Linked DNA regions of Homo sapiens: region 2 is linked to region 1. Evidence: fine-mapped expression QTL. A gene starts in region 1. The other region holds a variant in brackets. All regions are shown on one strand. Distances are between the middles of the regions.

What was found. PIP is the estimated chance that this variant, and not a neighbour inherited with it, causes the effect.
Region 2: its variant is the best candidate, but not a certain one, in a credible set for the expression of MRFAP1L2 in whole blood (Lepik 2017, PIP 0.60).

The regions. Positions count from the first base shown.
Region 1 is chr4:6,672,306-6,676,305 of GRCh38, forward strand. It overlaps MRFAP1L2 (Morf4 family associated protein 1 like 2), which reads left to right and starts at 1,770. Exons shown (of 1, transcript NM_138699.3): 1 at 1,770-3,742. The coding sequence starts at 1,908. The coding sequence ends at 2,267. LINC02482 (long intergenic non-protein coding RNA 2482) reads right to left here and starts at 1,576. Exons shown (of 2, transcript NR_134665.1): 1 at 1,379-1,576. RefSeq lists an enhancer at 764-1,372 and a silencer at 1,845-2,074.
Region 2 is chr4:6,651,511-6,656,032 of GRCh38, forward strand. No RefSeq gene overlaps it. Among named protein-coding and RNA genes, the nearest start is that of MRFAP1, 13 kb to the left of the region's middle. The variant G/A (reference allele first, on the strand shown) is at 2,473.

The DNA.
Region 1 (4,000 bases):
TGCTGGGCTCAAGCAATCTTCCCGGCTCAGCCTCTCAAGTAGCTGGGACTATCGGCACGCGCCACCACGCCCAGCTAATTTCTTGTGTTTTTTTTGGTAGGGTTTTTTCCCTTGTTGCCCAGGCTGGTATGGAACTCCTGAGCTCAAGCGATCCTCTCACCTCAGCCTCCCAAAGTGCTGGGATTATAGGCGTGAGCCACACGCCCGGCCTGGGTGTTTATGATTTAGAATGTTGGTGAGAGGTGACAGTGTGCTGGCAGTCCTCACAGCCCTCGCTCACTCTCGGTGCCTCCTCTGCCTGGGCTCCCACTTTGGCAGCACTTGAGGAGCCCTTCAGCCCACTGCTGCACTGTGGAGGCCCCTTTCTGGGCTGGCCAAGGCCAGAGCCGGCTCTCTCAGCTTGCAGGGAGGTGTGGAGGGAGAGGCGCGAGCGGGCACCGGGGCTGCACACGGCGCTTGCGGGCCAGCTGGAGTTCAGGGTGGGCGTGGGCTTGGTGGGCCCCGCACTCGGAGCAGCCGGCTGGCCCTGCCAGCCCCCGGCAATGAGGGGCTTAGCACCCGGGCCAGCGGCTGCGGAGGGTGTACTGGGTCCCTCAGCAGTGCCAGCCCACCGGCGCTGTGCTCGATTTCTCACCGGGCCTTAGCTGCCTTTCCGAGGGGCAGGGCTCGGGACCTGCAGCCCGCCATGCCTGAGCCTCCCACCCCCTCCATGGGCTCCTGTGCTGCCCGAGCCTCCTCGACGAGCACCACCCCCTGCTCCACGGCGCCCAGTCCCATCACCACCCAAGGGCTGAGGAGTGTGGGCGCACGGTGCCGTTCTCGCAGGCAGCTCCACCTGCAGCCCTGGTGTGGGATCCACTTGGTGAAGCCAGCTGGGCTCCTGAGTCTGGTGGGGATGTGGAGAACCTTTATGTCTAGCTCAGGGATTGTAAATACACCAATCAGCACCGTGTGTCTAGCTCAGGGTTTGTGAATATACCAATCGACTCTGCTGGGGCCTTGGAGAACCTTTGTGTCTAGCTCAGGGATTGTAAACGCACCAATCAGCACCCTGTCAAAACAGACCACTCGGCTCTACCAATCAGCAGGATGTGGGTGGGGCCAGATAAGACAATAAAAGCAGGCTGCCGGAGCCAGCAGTGGCAACCGGCTCAGGTCCCCTTCTATTGTGGAAGCTTTGTTCTTTCTCTCTTTGCAATAAATCCTGCTGCTGCTCACTCTTTGGGTCCACACTGCCTTTATGAGCCGTAACAGGTCTGCAGTTTCACTCCTGAGCCGGCGAGACCACGAACCCACCAGAAGGAAAAAACTCCGAACACATCCGAACATCAGAAGGAACAAACTCCAGACGCGCCACTTTAAGAGCTGTAACACTCACCGCGAGGGTCCGTGGCTTCATTCTTGAAGTCAGTGAGACCAAGAACCCACCAATTCCGGACACATTGGGAACTTAGAGCAGTGCTTGGGACATGGTTATCAGCGTCAGATATTTCCTTAAACTAGCGTGAAGTCGACTTTAACCTTCCAGCAGTGTGAGTGAGGGCCCTGACCCTAGAATCAACGCCCAAAGAGCTGTGGCGCTACAGCGGGCGGGGACATGGGGTGCGCATGCGTGCGGGGGGGTACGCGTGCGTGCAAGTGCGCGTGCGCGCGCAGGACCGCTGAGGCGGGAGCCCCGAATGCGGTTCTCGCTTGCTGCGTGGCGGTAAAGGACCGCAGGTGTCGTAAAAGGGCCGCAGTGGCAGCGTCCTGGCCGACGGCTAGTAGCCCATTTTGGATACCGTCCTCGCTGCGGAAAGTTGGGGCAACCTGTTGCTAGTCTGGTCGTTGGTGACAGCGAGGCTTCCGCGCTCGCTGCTGGTGAGCAGCCCCGGCGTGCCCCGCGGGCTGGAAGAGGCGGCGGCGTGATGCGGCCCGTGGACGCGGACGAGGCGCGGGAGCCCCGCGAGGAGCCGGGCAGCCCGCTGAGCCCCGCGCCCCGCGCCGGCCGCGAGAACCTGGCCTCCCTGGAGCGCGAGCGCGCCCGGGCGCACTGGCGGGCCCGCAGGAAGCTGCTGGAGATCCAGAGCCTGCTCGACGCCATCAAGAGTGAGGTGGAGGCAGAGGAGCGGGGCGCCCGGGCCCCAGCACCCCGCCCGCGTGCGGAGGCTGAGGAGCGGGTGGCTCGGCTGTGCGCCGAAGCAGAGAGGAAGGCTGCGGAGGCGGCGCGGATGGGCAGGCGGATCGTGGAGCTGCACCAGCGGATCGCCGGCTGCGAGTGCTGCTGAGCCGGCGAGGCCGCGCGGGTCTGGAGCGGAGCGCGGCGGGGAGTGTCCCGCGTGGAAGGCGCTGGGTAGGCAGGGAGGGGAGCGCAGAGCCGTGCCACGCTCTCCGCGGAGTTGGTTTCATTCTTTTTTCATAGGTAATTAGAGAAAATAATTTGATATGTTGTTGTAAAGAGTCATGACCACTGGAAGTATTTTCAGGACGTAGACCTGGTGGGTCACTACGTGGGGGGAGAGAGGTGTGAAGCGGAGGTACATGCTGGAAACGTGTGAATGTTGTTACGAGATTGGAGCGTTTGCGATGACCTTCCTGCAGGTGGAAGCATTGTGCACAGGTGGTTGGGTTTGTTTGACTCCCGGATATGAGAATATCAAGCTCAAAATTTATGTTGTGATGATGAATTTCTCCCACTTGTACTTTAGGTGGCCAACTGACGAACTGTGTTCACCTGATAAGGAGTCGTGGCTGCTTGGACAGGCTCAAACCAAGAGAGCCTTTCGTTTTGTCTCCCCTGTTTTTCTGCCTGCGTTTTCTCCACATTAGCCACTCAATTTCCAGTACCATCCTGGCGGATGACTTCAGCATTAGATGGTCAGGTGTATTTTTTTATTAATAGGCGCATTCAGTTTGGAAAAGACAGCTTTTCATTAATGTCCCACGTAAAGGAATATGGCCTATACAGTACGTACGCTGCTGCGTGGTCATATTTGTTCCTGTGATCTTATTGTATTTTCAAAGTTTGGAAGTATACTCGTGTGCTTTGCTGTTTTTTTATGCTTCCTGGAATTTGGGGACTCATGAGAGACTTGAGGTTAGAGTTCTGCAAGTGAGAAGACACTACATGGTTGCAGCTGCCACATGAAGAACCCAAGCTCCTGTCAAAGTTGTGAATGCGACTTTGGATGAGATTAAGAAGGCCCAGTGGACGGTTGGTCTTGAAGAGTGGCAGTGTGTGGATTTGAGGACCTCTGCAGACCATCAGATCAAAGGAGGGAGAGCTGTTTTGGGTGTTTTGTTTTTTTTGTTTTTATAGCATTTTGCTTTTTCTTGGAATGTAATTTTCCTATGGCATGTTAACTGGTGCACATCGTGTAACCTGTCTGGTGAGCAACCTACAATTGGGATGAGTTCTAGGTACATGTGTTTGCTGACTTTGGGGTAAACAACTTTGTTATAATACAGTCTCTGCCACAGATGCATGTGACCTCTTCAGGGGCCCAGAGTGGCTGAGGAAGGAAAGCTTCAAGCTGGCCATGGGGGTCCCAAACAGTCATTCCAGGCTTAGATGATGACTAGCCTAGGTCATCAGAGCCCAGACTCCACAGAGACTAAAATCAGAGCTCTGTCTTGTTATGATAAATTTCATTTGCTTGGAAAAAGAAATGCTGAAAGCCAGTGTTTAGAATCTTTGTGCAGATGACCAAAGCAATTGACTTGGCCAAGAAAAGGTAAGGTAAATAAACATTTTTCAAAATGAGTTTCTCCTTGATAGTGGTCACTGTCAAATGGAGGAGAATTGCTTCTGACTCACGAGTTGTTCAAAGCCTGTAGCCCAGGGTGGGGTTTGAGCTGCAGAAGAAGAAGAAGGCAGACCTAGAGTAGGAAAGGGGTGCCTCATGAAGCCATATGGTCTGGCCCCAGCCTTTGGAGAGGTGAAGTCCATTCAGGCAGCTAGTGTTCACTGTGACCACAGAGCTCCACACTATGCCAGGCACTAGGAATTTCTTGGAGAGAC
Region 2 (4,522 bases), 21 kb before region 1:
AAGGCCCTGTCTCTAAAACTAAAATAAAAATAAAAACCATGAATTTGGCTGGGCATAATGGCTCACACTTGTAATCCCAGCACTTTGGGAGGTGGAGGCAGGCATATCACTTGAGCCCAGGAGTTCAAGATCAGCCTGGGCAACATGGCAAAACCTAGTCTCTACAAAAAATTTAAAAATTAGCTGCATGTGGTGGCAAATACCTGTAATTCCAGCTACTCTGGAGGCTGAGGCAGGAGATCTCTTGAGTCTGGTGGGTGTGGGGAGGAGCACAGGGAACTCACAAATTTGAAATTTAGATGGACAAGCAGAAAGCCAGGATATTCCTGCAGTAGCACCAGATGGGAGGCCTTGCTATACTTTACCAAATATTAATATTTATTATAAAGCTAACAGTAATTAAGTCAATGGAGTAATGGCCCAGAGATAGGTAAAGACCAGTGGAACAGAGTATACAGCCCAGATACAGATATGAGCAAATATGGACATACGATACCTGACACACGTTACACAGCAACCCAGAAAGAATGGATAAAACAGTCAGCATGGGCCCACCGCGGTAGCTCACGCCTGTAATCCCAGCACTTTGGGAGGCCGAGGCGGGCGGATCACGAGGTCAGCAGATCAAGACCATCCTGGCCAACGTGGTGAAACTCCGTCTCTACTAAGATACAAAAAATTAGCTGGGCATGGTGGCACATGCCTGTAGTCCCAGCTACTTGGGAGGCTGAGGCAGGGGAATCGCTTGAACCCGGGAGGTGGAAATTGCAGTGAGCCAAGATCTCACCAGGCTGGTGACACAGCAAGACTCAAAAAAAAAAAAAAAAAAAAAAAACCACCACCAACAACAAAAACAGTCACCATGTAGGGCTAGGACAAATGGCTATACATGTGGGGGAAACTGCAATTAGATCCCTGCCACAAACATCACAAAAAAATTATTTTCAGATGGAGTAACCCACAGATATAAAAAACTAATTATCTAACTAAATACTTTAGAGAACTTAAAGGAAAATTTGTATGGCTTCAGAGCATGAAAGGCTTTCTTTACAAGACAAAAAGCAAAAAGCAGAAAAGACTGATATTTTGTCTTCACCAAAACTAAAATCTTAACTTATACATGAATGCTGATGGCAGCATATACTAGTCAAAAGGCAGAAACAACCCAAATGGCCACCAACAGAATCAACTGATGAATGAATAAACATTCATTCATAAACTGCGGAATAGCCATACAAAGAAATATTATTCAGCCATAAAAATTAACAAAGTATAGCCAGGCACAGTGGCTCACGCCTGTAATCCCAGCACTTTGGGAGGCTGAGGCAGCAGATCACCTGATGTCAGGAGTTCAAGACCATCCTGGCCAACATGGAGAAACCCCGTCTCTACTTAAAATACAAAAATTAGCTGGTGTGGTGGGGCATGCCTGTAGTCCCAGGTACTCAGGAGGCTGAGGCACGAGAATCGCTTGAACCTGGGAGGCGGAGGTTGCAGTGAGCCAAGATCATACCACTGCACTCCAGCCTGGGTGACACAGTCAGACTTTGTCTAAAAAAAAAAAAAAAGAAAGAAAGAAAGAAAGAAAAAGAAAAGGCCATCTTCAAGCCAGGGAGAGAGGCCTCAGGAGAAGCCAACCCTGCTGGCACCATGATCTTGAACTTTCAGGCTCCAGAATCATGAGAAAGTAGATTTTTGTTGTTTTAAACACCCAGTCTGTGGTATTCTGTTACGGCAGCCCTAGCAGACTAACACATATGATATGTACAGACAGGTAAATCCACAGAGACAGAAAGGAGATGAGTATTGGCCATTGGGTAAGGGGAGGCAGGATGTGGAGTGATTATTATATGAGTACTGGGTTTTGTTTTGTTTTGTTTTTTTGAGATGGAGTCTCACTCTGTCGCCCAGGCTGGAGTGCAATGATGCAATCTTGGCTCCCTGCAACCTCCGCCTCCCAGGTTCAAGCGATTCTCCTGCCTCAGCCTCCCAAGTAGCTGGAATTATAGGCACCCGCCACCACGACTGGCTGATTTTTGTATTTTAAGTAGAGACGGGGTTTCACCACGTTGGCCAGTCTGGTCCTGAACTCCTGACCTTGTGATCGGCCCACCTCGGCCTCTAAAAGTGCTGGGATTACAGGCGTGAGCCACCGCACCTGGCCTTGAGTACTGGGTATTTTTATAGAAAGATGAGAAAGTTTTGAAACTAGAGAGAGCTAGTGGTTACACAATATTGTGAATACACTAAATACCACTTAATTGTACACTTTAAAGTGGGTAATTATGTTACATTAATTTCACCTCAATTTTTAAAGAAGCCAGAACAGTCCAATTCATGGGACAGAAAGTAGAATGGTGGATGCCAGGGGCTGGGGGAGGGAGGATTGGGGAATTAATGTTTAATGGGGACAAAGTTTCAGTTTGGGAGGATGAAAAAGTTCTTGAGGCAGATGGTGGTGATGGTTGCACA[G/A]TTTGAATGGACTTACTGCCACTGAACTGTACCCTTAAATGGTTAAATGGTAAATCTACTATGCATATTTTACTATAATAAATTTATTTTACTTTTTTGCAGTCAATTTTTAAGCTAAAATATGGTGCTAATCAAAGGAACCATCATCAAAGTGAAAAGTTGAGCTGCATTCTGTGCTATCTTCTCGATTTTTCTATAAACCTAAAACTGTTCTAAAAAATAAAGTCCATTTAAAAGAAAATAGTCAAGCTTCAATTGGGAGAAGATATTTGCAACACACACTCTAGAGGAAATATTAAAGAGAATCCACCAAAATGTATAAAAAGATAGGGTTAGAAAAAAAGCCCACATTGCCAAGTCAATCCTAAGCCAAAAGAACAAAGCTGGAGGCATCACGCTACCTGACTTCAAACTACACTACAAAGCTACAGTAACCAAAACAGCATGGTACTGGTACCAAAACAGAGATACAGACCAATGGAACAGAACAGAGCCCTCAGAAATAACACCACACATCTACAACCATCTGATCGTTGACAAACCTGACAAAAACAAGAAATGGCGAAAGGATTCCCTATTTAATAAATGGTGCTGGGAAAACTGGCTAGCCATATGGAGAAAGCTGAAACTGGATCCCTCCCTTACACCTTATACAAAAATTAATTCAAGATGTATTAAAGACTTAAATGTTAGACCTAAAACCATAAAAACCCTAGAAGAAAACCTAGGCAATACCATTCAGGACATAGGCATAGGCAAGGACTTCATGTCTAAAACACCAAAAGCAATGGCAACTAAAGCCAAAATTGACAAATGGGATCTAATTAAACTAAAGAGCTTCTGCACAGCAAAAGAAACTACCATCAGAGTGGACAGGCAACCTACAGGATGGGAAAAAATTTTTGCAATCTACTCATCTGACAAAGAGCTAATATCCAGAATCTACAAAGAAATCAAACAAATTTACAAGAAAAAAACAAACAACCCCATCAAAAAGTGGGCGAAGGATATGAACAGACACTTCTCAAAAGAAGACATTTATGCAGCCAACAGACACATGAAAAAATGCTCATCATCACTGGCCATCAGAGAAATGCAAATCAAAACCACAATGAGATACCATCTCACACCGGTTAGAATGGCGATCATTAAAAAGTCAGGAAACAACAGGTGCTGGAGAGGATGTGGAGAAATAGGAACACCTTTACACTGTTGGTGGGTCTATAAACTAGTTCAACCATTGTGGAAGACAGTGTGGCTATTTCTCAAGGATCTAGAACTAGAAATATCATTTGACCCAGCAATCCCATTACTGGGTATATACCCAAAGGATTATAAATCATGCTGCTATAAAGACATATGCACACATACGTTTATTGCAGCACTATTCACAACAGCAAAGACTTGGAATCAACCCAAATGTCCATCAATGATAGACTGGATTAAGAAAATGTGGCACATATACACCATGGAATACTATGCAGCCATAAAAAAGGATGAGTTCATGTCCTTTGTAGGGACATGGATGAAACTGGAAACCATCATTCTCAACAAACTATCACAAGGACAAAAAACCAAACACCGCATGTTCTCACTTATAGGTGGGAATTGAACAATGAGAACACTTGGACACAGGAAGGGGAACATCACACACTGGGGCCTATTGTGGGGTTGGTGGGGAGAGGGGAGGGATAGCATTAGGTGATATACCTAATGTAAATGACGAGTTAATGGGTGCAGCACACCAACATCGCACGTGTATACATATGTAACAAACCTGCAAGTTGTGATCACATACCCTAGAACTTAAAGTATAAAAAAAAAAAAAGAAGATAGGGTTAGAATTAGGGTTAGGAGAACCCAGAGGAGAATAATAAGGTGGGGGCACGGCTTTGAGGGTCTTCATTCATTTTTATCCATCCTTAGACTTTCTGCAGACTAAGCTTCAAGTTTTCAACTGCTGCTACAACAAATTATCACAAATTAACAGCTCAAAATAACACACATTTATCATCATAGTCCTGAAGGTCAGAAGTCACGAATGGCTTAG